2 separate regions of the Homo sapiens genome follow, and region 1 is linked to region 2. The links come from fine-mapping of genetic effects on gene expression. A gene starts in region 2. The other region holds a variant in brackets. All regions are shown on one strand. Distances are between the middles of the regions. Region 1 overlaps DRC4 (dynein regulatory complex subunit 4). Region 2 holds the start of DRC4 (dynein regulatory complex subunit 4).

The links. PIP is the estimated chance that this variant, and not a neighbour inherited with it, causes the effect.
Region 1: its variant is fine-mapped to the expression of DRC4 in prefrontal cortex (BrainSeq, PIP 0.95).

Annotation. Positions count from the first base shown.
Region 1 is chr16:90,040,815-90,050,664 of GRCh38, forward strand. DRC4 (dynein regulatory complex subunit 4) reads left to right here. Exons shown (of 11, transcript NM_001481.3): 10 at 1,656-1,721; 11 at 2,382-4,146. The coding sequence ends at 2,531. It also overlaps the pseudogene URAHP. Among named protein-coding and RNA genes, the nearest start is that of GAS8-AS1, 16 kb to the left of the region's middle. RefSeq lists an enhancer at 5,609-6,122. The variant A/AAT (reference allele first, on the strand shown) is at 4,495.
Region 2 is chr16:90,017,673-90,027,522 of GRCh38, forward strand. It overlaps DRC4 (dynein regulatory complex subunit 4), which reads left to right and starts at 5,008. Exons shown (of 11, transcript NM_001481.3): 1 at 5,008-5,052. The coding sequence starts at 5,050. It overlaps DBNDD1 (dysbindin domain containing 1), which reads right to left and starts at 1,784. Exons shown (of 4, transcript NM_001042610.3): 1 at 1,639-1,784. The coding sequence starts at 1,669. RefSeq lists silencers at 1,903-2,042, 2,789-3,083.

The sequences.
Region 1 (9,850 bases), 23 kb after region 2:
GGTGGGGCTGGGAGGGGCCGAGGTGACTTGGTGTTTGCACATGGGGGAACGACGGGTCCCGGCCCAGTGGGCGGTGGTGCCTGTGGGACCCTGGTCATCTGGGATGGCCTGGCTCTCAGGGCCTGAGGTAGTGAGGCTGTATAGGAGGGGCCTCACCTGGGCCAGAGGCACTGTGGCCCCGGGACTGAAAACTCATCTTTGTTTGCTCAGCACTGGGCCCAGTGAGCACAGGCAGGTGAGGGAGTGAGGGTCCCACTGTTGGGAGGTGGGGGAGGCGTGTTTCCAGCTCCTGGCTGAGGGCTGCACCCAGCCTGCTGCTAAGCCACCGAAATGAGGGTGAAGAGAGCAGTCGTGGCCTGTGAGGGTCATTGCAGCTGCGCCCACGCGCCAGGGTGAGGATGGAGGATGGAGCTAAATGTGGGTCAACCCCTCCTTTCCTGGTCATTGTTACCTCGACTTCTAAGTGAGGAATCTTCTGGGGAAATGACAGAGGCCCCCGCAGGGACACTGTTTGCTGCTGGCCAGGTGTGAGGGGGCTGCTGTGTCAGTGGGCAGCAGGGACGGCTCTAAAGCCAGGCTGGGCCCAGCAGTGCCCCACAGGCAGGAGCCCAAGAAGTCCCTGCCTCGCCACGTGGTGAGACCCTTGCCCACATCTGGGCGGGGCCAGCGCTGCTGAAGACTACTTTTTTCTGTTACAAAAAAGTGGGATAGCCGGGCGCGGTGGCTCACGCCTGTAATCCCAGCACTTTGGGAGGCTGAGGTGGGCAGATCACGAGTTTGGGAGTTCAAGACCAGCCTGGCCAAGATGGTGAAACCCCGTCTCTACTAAAAATACAAAAATTAGCTGGGCTTGGTGGCGGGTGTAATCCCAGCTATTTGGGAGGCTGAGGCAGAGAATTCCTGGCACCTGGGAGGCGGAGGTTGCGGTGAGCCTAGATCGCGCCACTGCACTCCAGCCTGGGCAACGGGGCGAGACTCCATCTCAGAAAAAAAAGTGAGATAGTACATTCACAAGCCTCAAGAAATTTAAGCAATATGTAGGTGGTGTTTAGTGACCAGTCTCCACAGTGTGGCTGCACGCTGCCTGCCCTCACCTCATCTGCATTTCTTGTGGTCTGGACTGCTCTTTGAGTTTTTTCTTGAGACGGTGTCTTGCTCTGTCACCCAGACTGGAGTGCAGTGGCTCAATCTCGGCGCACTGCAACCTCCGTTTCCCAGGTTCAAGCAATTCTCATGCCTCAGCCTCCTGAGTAGCTGGGATTACACAGGTGTGAGCCACCGTGCCCGGCTACTTTTCGTATAGTAGAGACGGGGTTTCGCCACGTTGGCCAGGCTGGTCTCAAACTCCTGACCTCAAGTGATCTGCCCTCCTTGGCCTCCCACACTGCTGGGATCACAGGTGTGAGCGGCAGTGCCTGGCCTGGACTGTTGCTGGAGAGGCAGGTTGTGCAAGCTCCCAGTTCTCTGCTTCTTCCTTGTTTTCTCTCCACCCTTGGAGACCTTTTTCTGCTGACAACCCTGTGTGGATGGATGCATCCATCAAACCAGGCTGCTATTCGCTGGATCTCTCAGAACGCCCACTGGAGTCCCCAGGCCGCTCCCGTTGCCTCGGCCAAAAGATGAGTCTCAAACTCCCATCACCTCTCTCTCCTCAGGATGTTCTTGAGTCGAAGAACAGCACCATCAAGGACCTGCAGTATGAGCTGGCCCAGGTCTGTAAGGTACGGCTGTGCCCTGCCCTCCCTCAGGGGCACCCCCTCGGTGCCCAGACTGTTCTAAATGCAGACGGTCTCTGAGGACCCCACCTGTGCCCACTTCGTACCTCGTTTGACAAGGCAGCTGTCACTGTCCCCACGTGAGGGTGCAGTCATAGCCGAGAGCATCTGGATTCTGTGTGGTCTGGGGCAGTGCACTGCTGTCTAGGCCATGTCTCTGCTGGGATGGGTGTAGGGGGGGACCTGGACGCTTCCCTGGTCAGCCCCTTCCCCTGGGCAGGGAGTCAGAAGGTGCTGTGCCCACCGGGGAAGGAAACAGACGTCATTCAACAGGGGAAGGGAGGGCGTGAAGAACCTGAGTGGGAAACACCCAGCCAGGGCCCAGAGCCCTCCCAGACCACAGCTCTGCCCTGAGTGTCCCTGCCCTCTGCCTCCGTCTCGTCATTTGTGGAATAGGAATAGTGACAGCCTCTCCCTGTCGTGCTACCTGAGCCAACGCAGTGAAGGTGCTTGGAGCTGTGTCCCACACGGGAAATGACTGATAAGCCTTTGGCTTTATCCTTCTGCACCGTGATGCTCACGCTGCCCCTCCATGGAGCTGCACTCAGCTCTGGTGGTCCTGAGCGTGGGGACCCTCAGCTCCCTGACACTGCCCTGTCTCCACAGGCCCATAACGACCTGCTGCGCACGTATGAGGCAAAGCTGCTGGCCTTCGGGATCCCTCTGGACAACGTGGGCTTCAAGCCCTTGGAAACAGCTGTGATCGGACAGACACTGGGCCAGGGCCCCGCGGGACTGGTGGGCACCCCGACGTAGCTGCCCCCCTGGGGGGCCACAGCCCAGAGAACCAGCCTAGGAACACTCGGGATGACACCCCTTATCACACCAAGGACAGCAAGTTTTTTAGATTTTATCATCAGCAAATGAAAGCTTTTCACATGTTCTTGCCATCCTCTTTCCTGGCTCTGTGGAGGAGAACCACCTGCAGGACCCTCACCCATGGTGTCCCTGTCGCTCCCTTCCCTGGGTGCCGCACGTCCAGCCTGTGTCCAGGCCTACTCCCTGGTCTCACCTCCGACCACAGTCGGCGGCACCTTCTCAGAGTGCCCCGCACTCACCTGGGGGTTGGGGCAGTGCCGCGCTGTGCTGCCTGTCTTCGCGCCACTGTTGTCCCACCGAATGGACAGCTTTGCAGGTGCTGGCACTAACTTCATTGACACCTGAGTCACAGCTGCCCAGTGGGATTCTCCAGGGGGCCGGGACTTCCCTAGGAAGTGGTGAGCCAATGCTCCCTGATGAGCACAAAGCCCGCTCTGTTGAGGGCTGGGTGGGTGCAGCCAGCGTGCGGGAACGGGCAGGCAGCCTCCCGCTGCCAGTCTTCGCTCTAACTCCCTCGGTAGGTGATGTAGGACCAGGGGCACGTGGAACTTCTGGGCCTTGCTGGTGATGGTTAAAACAACCTGAGATGGAGAGGCCAGGAGAGAGTATAAGGGGATAGCAGCAAACCACCTATCTGGCCCCAACACACCTGAGAGAATTCAGCAGCCCAGACTGAGGGTCTGGGATGGGGTGAACCTTCCGCACCAGAGGGACACTCCACAGAAGCCACAGCCCAGTAAGTCAGGCGCTTCTGCGGCGGCTCCAGTGTGGGGTGAGGCAGTGAGGTTAGGCCCAGAGAGCTGGAGTTGGCTCAGATGAAAACCTCTGTCAACAAAGAGGGGATGAATCACCCTTGGCCCAGCCTCCCCACAAAGCCTGACCCTGGGCAGGTGAGTGACGGGTGTGTCCTCGTAGAGTCTATTGCTGCCTGGACACCTTTCTTTTGGGAGCTCAAAGCAAGTGAGCTCACCTACCTGCCACCGCCCAGGACCAGTCTGCCCACTGCCTAAATGATGCCCGGCCAGCAGGACCTGGCCTGCAGATCCCAGTGAGTCATGAGCCTCAGCCCCCTCCAGCCCACTGGGGCTCTCACCTCCACATGTGGGTAGAAGCTTTCCTGCCCCCTCTTCCTCCAGTAGCCCTCAGTGTCGAAGGTGAGCTTGTAGGTGCCTGCCTTCATCTGGTCCAGGACAGTGACCATCTGGGTCTGTGTAGCTGGGGAGAGGATGAGGCTGCAGAGATGGGGACCAGAAGCCCCCCACCCCAGCTTTCCTGGGTCTGCATCCCAGTGGGCCTCAGACACTGCCCTGCCACCTGTCAGACTTGGGTGAGCAGACACAGTGAGGCTGTTAGGTCCTGCAGTTCCAGAGCAGTCTAGGGACACCACTGCCCTGTCTTTAGGAAATCACAACACAGAGAAGCAAAAAGGGAAAAAGTCTCCCACAATTTATCCCATGAGCAAGAACCACTTTATAGCTGGCATATATTTTTCCAGATTTTCTCTATGCATAAGTATATTTGTTTAAAAACTTATAAAGTGGATTATACTATTTGTATTGTTTTATAACCTGTGGTTTTCACTTAAAATATTGTGTATGGCTGGCTGGGCGTGGTGGCTCACACCTGTAATCCCAGCACTTTGGGAGGCTGAGACAGGCGGATCATGAGGTCAGGGTATCGAGACCATCCTGGTTAACACGGTGAAACCCCATCTCTACCACAAAAAAATTAGCTGGGCGTGGTCACGGGCACCTGTAGTCCCAACTCGGGAGGCTGAGGCGGGAGAATGGCATGAACCCAGGAGGCGGAGGCTGTAGTGAGCCGAGATCGTGCCACTGCACTCCAGCCTGGGCGACAGAGCGAGACTCCATCTCAAAAAAAAAAAAAAAAAAAAAAAAAA[A/AAT]GTGTGTGGCTTTCTGGGTCAATAACTACCAAACCTTCACCCACAGAGTGGGCCTGTCCAACTCCACGGAGCGTCTGTGTTGTGTGCCCTGGTCCCTTATCAGGGTTCTGAATAACCGTGGCTTTGCCCATAGTCACTTCTGGAAAACCTCCCATCATTCTTGCCAGCTGGTCTTTAAAGTGTGCGCTTCTGCTGTGATTAGAAAGAGCAGGCCCGAACAAGGTGGCTCACACCAGTAATCCCAGCACTTTGGGAGGCCAAGGTGGGTGGATCACGAGGTCAGGAGTTCAAGATCAGTCTGGCCAAGATGGTGAAACCCTGTCTCTACTAAAAATACAAAAATTAGCCGGGGGTGGTGGCAGGTGCTTGTAATCCCAGCTACTCGAGAGGCTGAGGCCAAGAATTGCTTGAACTGGGTAGGTGGAGGCTGCAGTGAGCCAAGATCGTGCCACTGCACTCCATCCTGGGCAACAGAGAGACTCCATCTCAAAAAAGAAAAAGAGCATAGCACGCTGGGTGTGGTGGCTCACGCCTGTAATCCCAGCACTTTGGGAGGTCGAGGTGGGTGGATCACCTGAGGTCGGGAGTTTGAGACCAGCCTGACCAACGTAGAGAAACCCCGTCTGTACTACAAATACAAAATTAGCTGGCGTGGTGGTGCATGCCTGTAATCCCAGCTACTAGGGAGGCTGAGGCAGGAGAATCGCTTGAACCCAGGAGGCGGAGGTTGCGGTGAGCTGATGCCACGCCATTGTACTCTAGCCTGGGCAAGAAGAGTGAAACTCTGTCTCAACAACAACAACAACAACAAACATAGCGTGTGTGCATGAGGGTAATGAGTCTCTGTGACCCTGCACGGGACGCCCAGCCCACACAGTGCTGTCCTAATTGCTCAGGTGGGACCTGGACCCCTCGTGTCTCAGCTTTTGTGAAGGACCACACGACTGTAGGAGCGGCAGGGTCAGACTCTCTCTGATCCTATGGGCCCAGCCCTGTCCTTCTGGCTGGAAGGGAGGGGGCCTGCCTCTTACGCAGGGGCCATGAGGCCTGGGTGGGTGACATCTGCCTCTGGAAGTGCCGCGCAGAGCCTGTGCCTGGGGCAGTGGGCAAGACCCCATGGAGGCTGAGGGACACACTGCCCCTCAGGCCTGGCTGGGAATCCCAGCACGCACCTGGGCTTGCTACCTCAGTCTTCCCATGTGTAGAAGGGTGAATTATGGTGCTGGCCCACGGGGTGTATGGAGAATGAAAAGAGTGGAAATAATGTCCAGCGTACTGCCTGGCACAAGGTTACCCGTGATCTCAGTGAGCTCTTCGATGCCACCTCAGGCCTCACCTCACCACCACCCCCCGCCCTCGCCCTGGCACAGCTGCCAGGGAGAGGCAGAAACTCACTCCCACCCCATCAGGGTCACAGGGGCCTGAGGCTGGAGGGAGGGAGGAAAGAGCTCCTCTCCTCATCCCTGTATTTTCAGAGGAGGAAACGGGCTGAGAGAAGCAGAAGAGAGAGCCCCTAACCTCACTCCCAACCCGGGCTGAGAGGAGGGTCGGCAGCGGTGAGCTCCGCCCTCCAGCCTCACTGCCTGGCCCCTTAGTCCCCGCCATCTGTCTCAGGGCGGCACTCCCCCTCCCAGGGCCTCTCTCCTACCTTGTCCTCAGCTCCGCCCACTGCTGGCCGTGGTCCTCCAGCCAGCACAAGCGGAGGCAGAGGCCTCTGGCTGGGAGCCCTGAGGCGGTGTCCAGCACGTGGGTGGTCAGTAGGTTGTCCGGAGGCTCCGTGCTGCTGCCCTGGGCCAGGAGAAGGAGGCCAGGGTGAGCCTCTGGAGCCCTGTGCCCGCCTACCCACACCAATCCTGCGTCCACACCAGCTGTGGGGCTTAAACAGCCCTCTGGACAGAGTTCTCCGAGCTGCCCAGGGGACAGGGGGCAAGGGTGACCGGAAGTGCCCAGGCAGCTGATGAGGCACCAAACGTAAACAGCGCAGCCTGTGCCTGCCGACCCTCCCCCACCAATCCCTGTGGCTCCCCTGCCCCACTGGGGACACCCACTGTCCCGCCCACGGCCCCACGAAATGGCCATTTCCCCCCAGGCCCTCAGTTCCAGCCCCTGGGGTGGTTCTCCCGGAACTGGGCTCTCCTCCGCGCCCCGGTTCCTGGGCCCTCGACGCTCAGCCCCACGCAAGCAGCTGAGGGGACAGGAGCCCTGCAGGTCCAGGCCTGGCCCCCTAACCTCCTGGGGGCCTAGGTGTCGCTGGAGCCTCAGCAGCCGCGGGACGGCCCGGGGGCTCATCCTGCCCTGCCGGACTGCGACGCCCGCGGGCAAAGGGAAGGGCGGGGCCGGTCACCCCGCCCCGGACCACCTCGTGCCCACCAGGAGGGCCCCAGCGGGGCTTTGCCCAGGAAGGTGCGCTGGTGGCGAATCAGGGCGCACAGACCTGGGGCCCAGAAGCGGAGTCGCGAGGACCTGCTGGGGGGTGGTGGGGGCGGGGACGGGGGCGGGGCCGCGGTGAGAAGGGGCGGGACCGCGGTGAGAGGGGGCGGGGGGCGGGGCCGCGGTGAGATGGGGCGGGGCCGCGGTGAGGGGGCGGGGCCGCGGTGAGAGGGGGCGGGACCGCGGTGAGAGGGGGCGGGACCGCGGTGAGAGGGGGCGGGACCGCGGTGAGAGGGGGCGGGACCGCGGTGAGAGGGAGCGGGGGGCGGGACCGCTGTGAGAGGGGGCGGGGGGACGGCGGGACGGGGGGATGGGGGGATGGAGGGGATGGGGGCGGGCCAGGTGGGTCCCAAGAAGACCTGCGCGAGACTGGGGACGGCGCGGGGCCCATCTCTCCCCTGGGAGGCTCAGAGGCCCGCAGGTTTCTCATGGAAGCCCCTCACAGGGTAAGTTTCCCCCGACAGGCCATGTGACCTTGCCTCGGTTTTCTCATCTGTAAAATGGGAGCAGTGGTGACTCCTCAGATTGTTGATATGGCTCCGTAGGTGAAGCTCTCTGAGCTGACCTCCCCCCCGCCCTTCCTCCCCGCAACGCGCGGTGGATGAGCGCAGGGTGGAGGCCCGTGCCCTGCAGAAAGTGAGAAAAGCCATAGAACTGCGTGTGCCGGCGAGTATCCATCGTTGTATTAACCTTACGTAATATACAGAGAACACATTTTGACTATATGTTATATATGTGAAGTCCTCATTAGGGAAAGGGAGGCAGGGGAAAGCAAACAGAGAAAGCAGACAAGCTACTAGTCTGCCTTCTTCATGCTCCAGGACACACAGCCCTCCAGACACACGGCAAATAACACATTCTTCCTGCGCCCCAGTCTCACCAGACGCCTGAAGGTTATTAACGCACACTCTCCAGCAAGGCTTTGTTTCTGTGCAGTCAGTTTCTCTTCTGCTGGCTGCCCGTCTTCTCTCTGGCAACGTATTTTCCTACTTTCTCTAGTAAATCTGCCTTCTCTTACATACAACTGTCTTGGTAAATTCTTTTATCCTCAAGCCACTGGCAGTCGTTCACCTGCCACAATGTATTAATGAAATAACGGACATTCTCTATTTAAAATCTGGGAAACGCTGCACCCGCATGATGGTGGACTGGCTGTCCTGCTCTGGGATCTGGGAACTTTTTTTTTTTTTGAGACGGAGTCACACTCTGTCGCCTAGGCTGGAGTGCAGTGGCACAATCTCGGCTCACTGCAACCTCCGCCTCCTTGGTTCTAGCGGTGAGTAGCTGGGATTACAAACGCCTGCCACCATGCCCAGCTAATTTTTGTAGTTTTAGTAGAGATGGGGTTTCACTGTGTTGGCCAGGCTGGTCTCGAACTACTAACCTCGTGATCAGCTCGCCTCGGCCTCCCAAAGTGCTGGGATTACAAGCGTGAGCCACCGCGCCTGGCCGGGAACTTCTTTCTTCCTGTCAAGCTGCATTTCCAGTTCTTGGGTGTTCGGCATGGGTGATTTGTAGATTAAGAATTAGGCCATTCAAAGGCAAGGGAGGAGACCCCTCTCAGCAAAGGTTGGGAGTATTCTGGCTACAACTACCTTGGGACTAGTTAGGAAACATCTATTTGGGATCCACACACACGACATTTGTTGTGGCTTCTGTTTATAGGAGATAATCCTAAAGAGAGGCTCACAACTGTTATGGCAAATGCCCATGGGTGCCAGAGGCCAGAGACAACCAGACTGGCCCCAGTGGGGAAAATTCCATAAACGCCAGGGTACTCTGCAGCCCTTTAAAAAGCATGAGGCCCATTTGTGTGTAAGATGAGAATTCTCCTGGAAAAACAACTAGTGACAAAGGACAAAACAGTGTGTAAGAGGGGGGAAGCTTGTAAATTCGTATCTAGCTTTCACTGAATTGCAAGGATTAGCTAATTCAATCCTCATAACAACCTCCTGGTGTATTGTTGTCCCTACCTTACAAAGCAGGAAACTGAGGCACAGGGAGGCCATATATTGGAATATTTCACAATAGGATACACAAAACAGTCATCCCAGTGACCACCTCTCGAGATAAGCAGTTGCAGATGGAGTATATTTATTTTGACTCTTTAACATTTTGTACTCTGAGAAATTCTAGTGGGCTTGTATTACTTTTTCGAAAGTCTCAAATGTTATAAATAAAGTGACAAAGCAATGATCAGTCCTTTTGGGGGTTGCCACGTAACCTCCCCCCTCTCCTGAGACTCTCCCTGCATAGGAGAAGCTAGTGGCCTATGGAGGGAGAATGGCAGACCAAGGGGTTGTCAGAATTCCTCTCCTGGCCTCTTCAGGGTAACCCCCCACCCGTCTTGCTCCCACCTAGACCAAGAGGGACTGCAGGGTCCCCTTTCCCAGGGAAACTGAGACCCTCAGCCATGCCTGACCTCCTGGCATCTGCCCCTTTCTGAAAACCAGGGTCACCACTGGGATGTCATGTGCTCTAGAAACTTCCTTAATGAGATGAGCAGGCTCCACACCCCAGGGCCTTTTTTTTGGAGATAGAGTCTTGCTGGAGTGTAGTGGCATGATCTCGGCTTACTGCAACCTCCGCATCCTGGGCTCAAGCAATTCTCCTGCCTCAGCCTCCTGAGTAGCTGGGATTACAGGTGTGTGGTACCACGCCTGGCTAATTTTTGTATTTTTAGTAGAGACAGAGTTTCACCATGTTGGCCAGGCTGGTCTTGAACTCCTGACCTCAGGTAATCCACCCACCTCGGCCTCCCAAAGTGCTGGGATTACAGGCGTGAGCCACCGCGCCCGGCCGAACACCCCAGGTCCTTTATGGCACCTTCAGGCAAATTTGAAAAAGAAGCATCATCTTCAAGACTCTTATCTTCCAGAAAATTGTCATAATAAATATCCAAGTAGCCTATCTTTGGTTTTTAAAT
Region 2 (9,850 bases):
TTGTAAGGTTTTCAAAAGTAAGTGATAAGTAATGACAGAGTCACCAATGTGTGATCTCATGAGGTTCCACAAAGTAGGCATCACTGGCCACTTTGCAGACAAGGAAACAGGAGTTGGTGTCAAGAGCGTGAGCCCTCAGAGGACAGGGCCCTGTCTTCCCACTAACTCCCCACCCCAGGCAGGGTACTGCACAGAGCTGCGACCTGTAGGTAAATACCTGTGCACTGATTGAGTCAGGTGTCTGAAGCCCCCAGCCAGTGACTGATGGGCTCAGAAACTGAACCTGCTTTCTCTGCCTTTTAAGCTGCTGGGAAGTCCTCCTTTTTTCCCAAAGGAGGAGGGAAAACATATTAACCTCCACTCCCAAATGCCTTGGGCTCCCACAGCCCTGCAGGGGAAGCAGAACTGTCTCCACTGACAGAAATGGAAATTGAGGCTCACAGGGGCCTGACTGCCCACAGTTCACAGCTGGAAACAGCTCGGAGACCCCCAAGCCCTCACTCCCAACCTCCAGGCTTCCTATGTCCACAAAGCTGCTACTGGGAATACCCAGGAGCCTGGGACTATCAGTGTTAAGAAAGAGCTCTGGTCCCTCCCACAAATGACAAATCAAAACCCAAACCCACCAGCCCTGGGGCATTTGTCCCTATACCTTGGACTGCAGATACACAGGGTGGGTGGACCTGCTCCTCCCGGGGACAGCCCTTCGGGCTCCAGAGGATGCCACTGTGTGCGGCTGGGGGACTGAGAGGTTCCCATGTAGTTCCAGAGCGGCAGGCTGGCCTGCCTGTGCCCTCAGGCACCTGCTGGCTCCCTGGAATGGGAGCTCTAGGAAACCAGGAGGTGGTGGGCTTGGCTGGGCAGGTGGAGGAGTCTGCAGTTTGCATCCAAGTTCCTACCTAGGCAAATGGAACCCCGAAAGCCCTTTTGGAAAAGTCTCTGATCGGGAAGGGGGGAGGTTCTGAGAGCTTTCTTCCCGTTACCGACTCCAAGGTCCTGCAGTAGGGCCTCCACCATCAGGGCAGGGAGCGCTCCACGCGCACCTACCCTCCCCGATGAGCGTGCGCCTGGGCCACTCCCGGACCAGCCACCCTTGCAGCTCTGGAGTCCCCGGCAGGCCGCGCCCGTGCATGCCCCACATCCCCAAGACCCATCTCAGCCCCTCGCCCCTGGCAGGATCCCTGCCCGCGAGTCTACGGCCCTCGCCCCCCGGGACTCGCGGCTGGGCGAACAAAGCGGACGCGCTTGCAAGCGGCCAGCGTCGCCCTCACGCCCCACCGACAGGGACCCCAAACTCCAGCCCCGGAACCCCCCTCCCCCGCTCCCCGGGTCACCGGCTGGCTTGGCTGGGAGGGGGCTCAGGACGAAACTCCGGGCCACCCACCAAGGAGCGTGCCGGGCACGGCTTCCCGGGCCGGGAGCGCAGAGAACAAGGGGGCGGAGACTCGGTCCGTGTGCCCCCAGCCCCGCGCGGGGACCGCGCCCGGGAGGTGCCCCTGGCCCGCCGGACGACCCCGAGCTGCCAAAGGGGTCTTCGCGACTCCCGGGAGCGGCGAAGGGTGAGCCCTGGGGGGAGGGGCTGCGGCTCGCTGCGGGGAAGCGCTGCGCGGGGGTCTCGGGGGCTGGGGCTGAACTCACCTCCGGTGCCGGCGCCCTCCGGGGGCTCCATGCGGCCGGTGCGGTCTGGGAGGGGCACGGGCGACGGCGGCGTCGCCTGGCCCGGGCGCCCCAACAGCTGCGGCAGCGACTCGGCCCCGGCTCCGGGCGCAGCGCATCGGGGCAGCAACCGGGGGGCCGCGGCGGCAGGGAGGAGCCCGCGGGGCGGGGCGGGGCGCGCAGCTGCTCCCGGGCCCCGGCCCCCTCCCGGCGCCCCCCCAGCCGCAGGACAGGTGCGGCCCCGCCCCGGCCCGCGCGCGCCCCCTGCTGGCCCCTGGCCCAGCGGACCCCTCCCCCGCCGACCCTTCCCTCGCGGGCCGCGCCCCGCCGCGGACACCACCGGGACCTGGCTGCGCCCTCCCGACCCCGGCCGGGCGTCCGGGGCTCCTGCGCACTCACTTGGCGGCCGCGCCCGCTGGCGTCCTCTTGTTCTCTTCCAGGTACTTGCGTGTGGGGCGCCGACTGTGTGCGGGCGCCCCTCGGGGCTGGCGAGGGGCACAGGAGGGGCCTGACTCGCGCTGGGTAATGACAGACTCACAGAGCGCCCTGGATGGCGCGAATTAACGCGGGGGGCGGGTGGGGGCGAGGGCGTGTGCTTGGGAGGCTGGAAGGGGCGGGATGGGGGATGGGAGGTAAGGAGAGGGCGGCGGGCCCGGGCTGCAGAGAGCGCCAAGGCAGTTTCGATGAAACTGACCCCCATGTCCCTATCGCCCAGATTCAGCGATTGCCAGCTCCTGGCCTGGGCCACTGCTTCTCTGTCCTCATTCACTTCCCTCCACTGCTGGGTCATTTTGAAGCAAATTATATACACATTAGATCATTGCATTTGTAAGTACTTCAATATTTATCTCTCAAAGAAAGTCCGTTTGCAGGAGCATTGACTCATGCCTGTAATCCCAGCCCTTTGGGAGGCTGAGGTGGGAGCACAGCTTGAGCTCAGGAGTCCAAGGCTGCCGTGAGCTATGATTGTATGTCTCAAAAAAAAAAAAGAAAAGAAAAGAAAAGAAAAAGTCTAGTCTTCATAAACACTCTTGTTAACCCAGCATCCAGGCCTTCACTGAGTTGATGCCGTGGCCTGAGGCGGTTTACCTGGTGGATAGTGGGTGGCAGGAAGCATCAGACATCAGACAGAGGGCAGTCGGTTTGTTTGTATTAACATTTGCTCTGGGATTTTGCAGGAAACTCAGATGCCATTTATCTGGGTTTCTGAGCTGCACAGCTTGACACTGAATGAAAGTATCTTAAGCCACATATGTGAAGAAAAGGCTCTTTTCTAAAAATCTGAACTCGAATTCAATATGAAAAGAACAGGTCGCAGTGGGCCCTGTCGGGATCCCAGGGAGCCGCAATTCAGGGCTCCCTGAATGATTCATCTCTGCAGCCCACACCGACAGACCAGGATTGCTCTTAGCTTGTGAAAAATGAGTACCCTGTCTAGGCTATCCTGAGCTAACCCTCCTATTCTTGCCCTTTTTGCTGAAAGGAATTATTGTTAATACAGCTATTTAATTCAGGACACTCATCCAGACTTCTGAAGCAAAAAGCCAATCAGCATGAAGCTGCTAGCATATTGGTTTTGTGAAGTAAGTGTTAAATTATAATAATTACCCCCACTGTGCTCTCCAGCGTCACTGTCTGACCACCCTGTCCCAGGGGGAGGAGGCCCCTCTCAGGCCAAGGGAGTCTGGCACAGTGATGCTGGCTCCTGGTTGCCCAGGCACAGTGACCAGCCAGACTTCACAGAGGCCTCAGGGCTTACTATAAATAAATCACTGCTTTGTGCAAGCTGAGCCAATGCAGTTCTTCCAACTGGCTGCTCCTCTCCAAGAACAATCAGGACTTAGGTGGGCAAACAGGAAGTCTCTCATCACAGTGGTTCTCAGATTCCCACCACTGTGTGGGTGCCTGAGGCCTGAGCAAACCCAGCTCATGTGGCAACTTCCTCCCCCAGCTGGACAGGAAGACCTAGGTCCACCAGGCCTTCTTTCATTTCTCACACTTTGCCCCCAGCACAACTTTCTACGAGCATGGATTCTGTACTCTTCATCCCCAGACACATGGGAGAACAAGATCTGCTACAAGACCTTTTCTTTTTTTTTTTGAGACAGGGTCTCAGGTCTCATTCTGTTACCTAGGCTGGAGTGAAGTGGTGTGATCTTGGCTCACTGCAACCTCCACCTCCAGGGCTCAAACGATTCTCCCACCTCAACCTCCCAAGTAGATGACCACTTTTTAAGAAGATGTTAAAGATGAGAGCTTAGGGCTGGGCGTGGGGCTCACGTGCTCCCAGCACTTTGGGAGGCCGAGGCAGGAGGATCACTTGAGGCCAGGAGTTTGAGACCACTCTGGGCAATAAAGCAAGACCCCGTCTCTATTAAAAACTTAAAAAAAAAAGCTGGGTATGGTGTCTCACACCTGTAGTCCTGGCTTCTCAGGAGGCTGAGGTGGGAGGATTGCTTGAGCCCAGGAGGTCGAGGCTGCAGTGAGTTGTGATCACAGCCTAGGCGACAGAAGGAGACCCTGTCTCCAAAAAAAAAAAAAAAAAAAAGCACCTGTTTATGACAAACTCAGCTTTCTGGGTGACATAGATGGTTGTATGTAGGTAACAGGGTGGTTTCACGGATGGCAGATTCATTTTAGAAATTGTAAAATGGCTAGCAGTTTTCAGAACAAGAGATTAGTTAGAAAAGGAAAGTGGCAGCTGTTTGTTTTCTGCAGGGCCTGTCGGGAAGCCTCTGGTTTCTTTTCATCCGTGAGGAGTGGGGAGGAGGCCTCTTCAGGAAGAGCAGTTTATTTTTGTGAAAGGAATACTTACTGATTTCAAACATTTGGAACTAAACTGGAACGTATTTTTCTTTCCGATTTCTGCGTTTTTGAGGTGTGTGTAAACCCACCAGCGCAGCAGCTGGGAGGGCCCTTCAAAGGTGGGCGGGTGGGGTGAGTGAGGCCCAGGGGATAGAGTGTTTGCCCAGATTTGAATCTCATTTGGGGAAAGTTTCAGAGGCTTGGGTGGCTGATTGATCATTCCTTCAATGGTCCTTCATCAGCACGTCTTTACTGAGCACGTGCTGTGTGCTGTTCTAGGCGCTGAAGGATAGAAGTGAAGGGTTCCCCCCTCGTGGAGCTTAGGTTCCAGCAATAAGCAAAACATGCCCTGCAGCGAAAGGCTTCTGGGCTGCCGGCGACATTTTCCCAACGTTCACAACCGGGTTCCTTCCGGACGCCCGTCTCTAGGGACGCACTCCCGCCTTTGGCAGGGCCGCTGCCCGGCGGAGTCTCGCGAGGATCTTGTGACTTATCGCGGCATCGCCCAGCGGTTGCCGGGAAACGGCGTGGCTTCCGGGGGCGGGCGCCCTGGTCCCGGAGTCGCCGCTGGGCCTGTCCGCTGGCGTCATGGTGAGCAGGGGCGGGAGCGGGGCTGGGGTCCTCGGCAGGGGCCCGGAGACCTCGGGGCAGGGAGGCCTCGGTACACGGAGACCCTGGGAATGGGAGGCCTGGAGCGCTGGGTTTCTGGAATTGAGAGCTCGGTGCTCTTGTGGGGGTCTCCGTGGGGCAAACTCAGGATGCTCCCGGCCCCGGGGCCTGGCAGCACTCGGGACTGAGACCTGGGCTGTCCAGAGCCCTGTGCTCACAGGGGTGGTCATAGAACGCCCAGGGCCCGGGGTCGGCGGCGCACGGTCCCCAGAAGAGTGAACATGCGTCAAGGGGACTCTCATCCTGGAATGGCAGACTCGGTCTGTTGGATCCCTGGGACCTAGGGTTTCAGCTCACGAGGCTTTGCAGAGCACCAGGGTCCCCATGGAATAGAGCCGGAGGCAGGAATTACCCTAAGACCTTTGGTCTCCCGGATGGAGAGCCTGGGGCACACCAGAGTGGCTAGAGATCCCTCTACACCAAGGAGGCCCGGACAGGTCCAGTGCCCTTGGAGTGCCCAGGGCACAACCTTGGGATACAGGAACCACTGTTCCCTTGGAAAGCCTGGCAGGAGTCAGGCCCAGACCGAGAAGAGGAAGGCGGAGCTCGTGGCCTCATCAGCTCCATGTCTGTCTTTCTCTTGTAAAGGGCTCTCCCTTTGTGGTACAGGAATTGTCAGTAACTCAATTTCTGGGCAGGTGTGGCAGGGTGGGTTTCAGCTGGTGGGGGGAGGAAAGCTCTGGGAGCCCCACCAAGTCCCTGCAGCTGGCTGTGAAGGTCCCAAATGCTAAGTAATGCTGAACCTTCCTCCACTGCCTTCAGGGCTTTGTGATGAGGTAGCCTTCTTGGAGTGGAGGGATTAAAAAGAGAGCAGTACATTACGAATTAAATTTAAGTAGATGGGTTTTCTGACCCAGGAAGGGTCTTCTGAAAACCGACTATGAAAGAAACTACCAAACTAGGCCAGGAGTCTGGGCGCGGTGGCTCACGCCTGTAATCCCATCACTTTGGGAGGCCGAGGCAGGCGGATCATGAGGTCAGGAGATCCAGACCATCCTGGCCAACATGGTGAAAATCCATATCTATTAAACATACAAAAATTAGCTGGGTGTGGTGGCGTGTGCCTGTAGTTCCAGCTACTCGGGAGGCTGAGGCAGGAGAATCACTTGGACCTGGGAGGCGGAGGTTGCAGCGAGCCGAGATCGCACCACCGCACTCCAGCCTGGCAACACGTCTCTTAAAAAAAAAAAAAAAAAGCAGGGTGTAGTGGCTGACGCCTGTAAACCCAGCACTTTAGGAGTCCAAGGTGGGTGGATCACTTGAGGCCAGGAGTTGGAGACCAGCCTGGCCAACATGGTGAAACCCTGTCTTTACTAAAAATACACACACACACACACTCACACACACACACACACAAAATTAGCCGGGTGTGGTGGTACGCACCTATAGTCCCAGCTACTTGGGAGGCTGAGGCAGGAGAATTTCTTGAACCTGGAAGGTAGAGGTTGTGTAGTGGGATTTTTAAGGAATTAGAGAGACCGATGGGGTTCAGGAGGATATTTATTAATTATTTAGGTGCACCGGCCCAGTCAGATTAAAATCCAAAGGACTGAGCCCTGAACAAAGAGTTAAGTTACCTTTTAAGCTTTTCGTGGGGCAGAGGGAGATCTGTGCAGGGGGAAGCATGCTTCAGATGTGAGAAATAAAGGCAGTTGTTCAGTTGAAACATGCATTACATCATTTCTTACTTTTTAAGGAAAAACATGTTTTGCGACTTGAGTTTATCTGCCTAGTGACCTTGCAGCCGCACAGCTACAGAATCAGGGTCTTCACAATGCCTGGGAAGGGAGGAGAGACAAGGCTCACTAGCCGCAGAAAAACAGGCAGTTAATTTTTAAAGGACTCCAGCTCTTTCTCTTTTTCAGGGGGAGTTGGGTTTTCTTATATATAACTGAGTTTCTGCTTACACACTTTTTAATTTCTTTTAATTCCTGTTCCAGTTGCAGTGAGCCAGGATTGCACCACTGCACTCCAGCCTGGGTGACAGAGCAAGACTCCATCTCAAAAAAAACAAAAACAAAAACAAAAAACAAAAAAATGCAACAGCAAACACAACAGCAAACACTAAACACAACCAAACTACTTCTGTTTCTGTTAGGTTGTGGGAATATGGGCCTTGGTCTGTTGGATCCTTGGACCAAGGAATATGGGTGATATTTCTGTTTTCTTCTCATCAGTGTTTTCTAAAATTTCCACATAATATTTTCTCTCTCTCTTTTTTTTTTTTTTTTTGAGGTAGAGTCTTACCCTGTCACCCAGGCTGGAGTGCAGTGGCATGATCTTGGCTCACTGCAACCTCTGCCACCTGGGTTCAAGCGATTCTCCTGCCTCGGCCTCCCGAGTACCTGGGACTACAGGTGCCCGCCACCACGCCTGGCTAATTTTTTTGTATTTTTAGTAGAGACAGGGTTTCACCATGTTGGCCAGGCTGGTCTTGAACTGCTGACCTCAAGTGATCCGCCCGCCTCAGCCTCCCAAAGTGCTGGGATGACAGGTGTGAGCCACTGTGCCTGGCTCCACCTAATGTTTTCATTCAGGACTAAATGAAACATAAATGAAGATAAATGGGCCAGTCGCGGTGGCTCACGCCTGTAATCCCAGCACTTTGGGAGGCTTAGGTGGGCAGATCACGGGTCAGGAGTTCGAGTACAGCCTGGCCAACATAGTGAAACCCCGTCTCTACTAAAAATACAAAAAATTAGCCGGACGTGGTGGTGGGCACCTGTAATCCCAGCTACTCAGGAGGCTGAGGCAGGAGAATGGCTTGAATCCGGGAGGCGGAGGTTGCAGTGAGCTGAGATCGCACCATTGCACTCCAGCCTGGGCAACAGAGCAAGACTCTGTCTCAAAAAAAAAAAAAAAAAAAAAAAAGAGAGTTCAAGACCAGCCTGGCCAACATGGTGAAACCTCGTCTCTACTAAAATACAAAAAAAAATTAGCCAGGCGTGGTGGCGGGCACCTGTAGTCCCAGCTCCTCGTGGAGGCTGAGGCAGGAGAATTGTTTGAACCCAAGAGGTGGAGGTTGCAGTGAGCCAAGGCAGCCTGGATGACGAGGGAGACTCCATCTCAAAAAAAAAAAAAAAAAGATAAATGGATTTAGGTTTTAATGTTTTTAAAAAATAAATAAAATTTCCACATGAAATTTGTAATTTTAAAAACGTTACATAGCTGGGCACAGCAGCAGTGAACTCCTGTGGTCCCAGCTCCTTGGGAGGCTGAGGTGGGAGTATCAGTTGAGCCCAGGAATTGGAGTCTGCAGTGAGCTATGTGATCACACCACTGCACTCCAGCTTGGGCGACAGAGCAAGACTTTGTCTTTAAAAAAGGTTACCGAGACATGTAGACACAGAAAAGCATGGGCTGAAGACTACTGGGAGTAGCAAAGTCAGCAGGATAGGATATGGAAATTTGTTACCTGCTTGAGTGCCCTGTAAATGGGTGGCCAGACAGAACTGCTCCTGGTGTCATGCGTGGTTTCAGCAACTTCCACAAGGGGGTGGGGTTAGAAGGTTCTCTCCCATCCTTGTCAAAGTTGCTAAAACCACGCACGACGCCATGTGCAGTTCCGTCTGGCAGCCCATTTACAGGGCTCTCGTGGTGGGTGCTGTCTGCCCAAGCTTTCTTGACCAGGCTTCTCTGAAGGAAGTTTCTCTTTGAAAGAAAGGAAACTTGTGGTTGTCACAACCGATCGTGGTTATGGAGGCATTTCTCCCTAAGCTTACTGAATGGTGTCTTGCAGGTCTTTTCCATGGTGGTCACCAATGTTGCCGCCAGCATGGTAACATTTGGCAGTGTGGTATTGAGGGTCTTTCCTCTGTTTTGCATCCACAGCAGAGGTCTTTACTTTTTACCAAGGAGTGAGTGGGTTTGGAATGGGTTCCCCCCTCTCTTAGTTTTTGGAGACGGGGTCTCGTTCTACTGCCCAGGCTGGAGTGCGGTGGTGCACCATAGCTCACTGCAGCCTTAAACTTCTAGGCTCAAGTGATTGTCCTGCCTTGGCCTCCCAAAGTGCTGGGATGACACGTGTGAGCCACTGCGCCTGGTCACCGTATACCAAGGAATGAGTGGGTTTGGAATGAGTTCCCTCTCTTTTCTTTTTTTTTTTTTTTAAGTTACAGTTTGCTTTTTGAGATGGAGTCTCACTTTGTTGCCCAGGCTGGAGTGCAATGGTGGGATCTTGGCTCACTGCAGCCTCTGCCTCCCGGGTTCAAGCGATTCTTCTGCCTCAGCCTCCCGAGTAACTGGGACTATAGGCACACACCAGCACACCTGGCTAGGTTTCCTCTCTTTTTTTTTTTTTTGAGATGGAGTCTCACTCTGTCGTCCTGGCTGGAGTGCAGTGGTGTGATCTCGGCTCACTGCAAACTCCATGCCCCAGGTTCAAGCCATTCTCCTGCCTCAGCCTCCCGAGTAGCTGGGACTACAGGCGCCCACCGGCACGCCCGGCTAATTTTTTTTTGTATTTTTAGTAGAGATGGGGTTTCACTGTGTTAGCCGGGATGGTCTTGATCTCCTGACCTCGTGATCCGTCCACCTCGGCCTCCCAAAGTGCTGGGATTACAGGCGTGAGCCACCACGCCCGGCTCCTCTCTTTTCTAGAAGGAATGTTCTCCTTCTCAAAAGGAAGGTTTCTCCTTTGTGCTTCTCCAAATGCAACAACAGGATGTGTGTGTGGTAAAGGGTGGGAACACTCAGGGCAATGATGTGCTCCAGGTGAGCA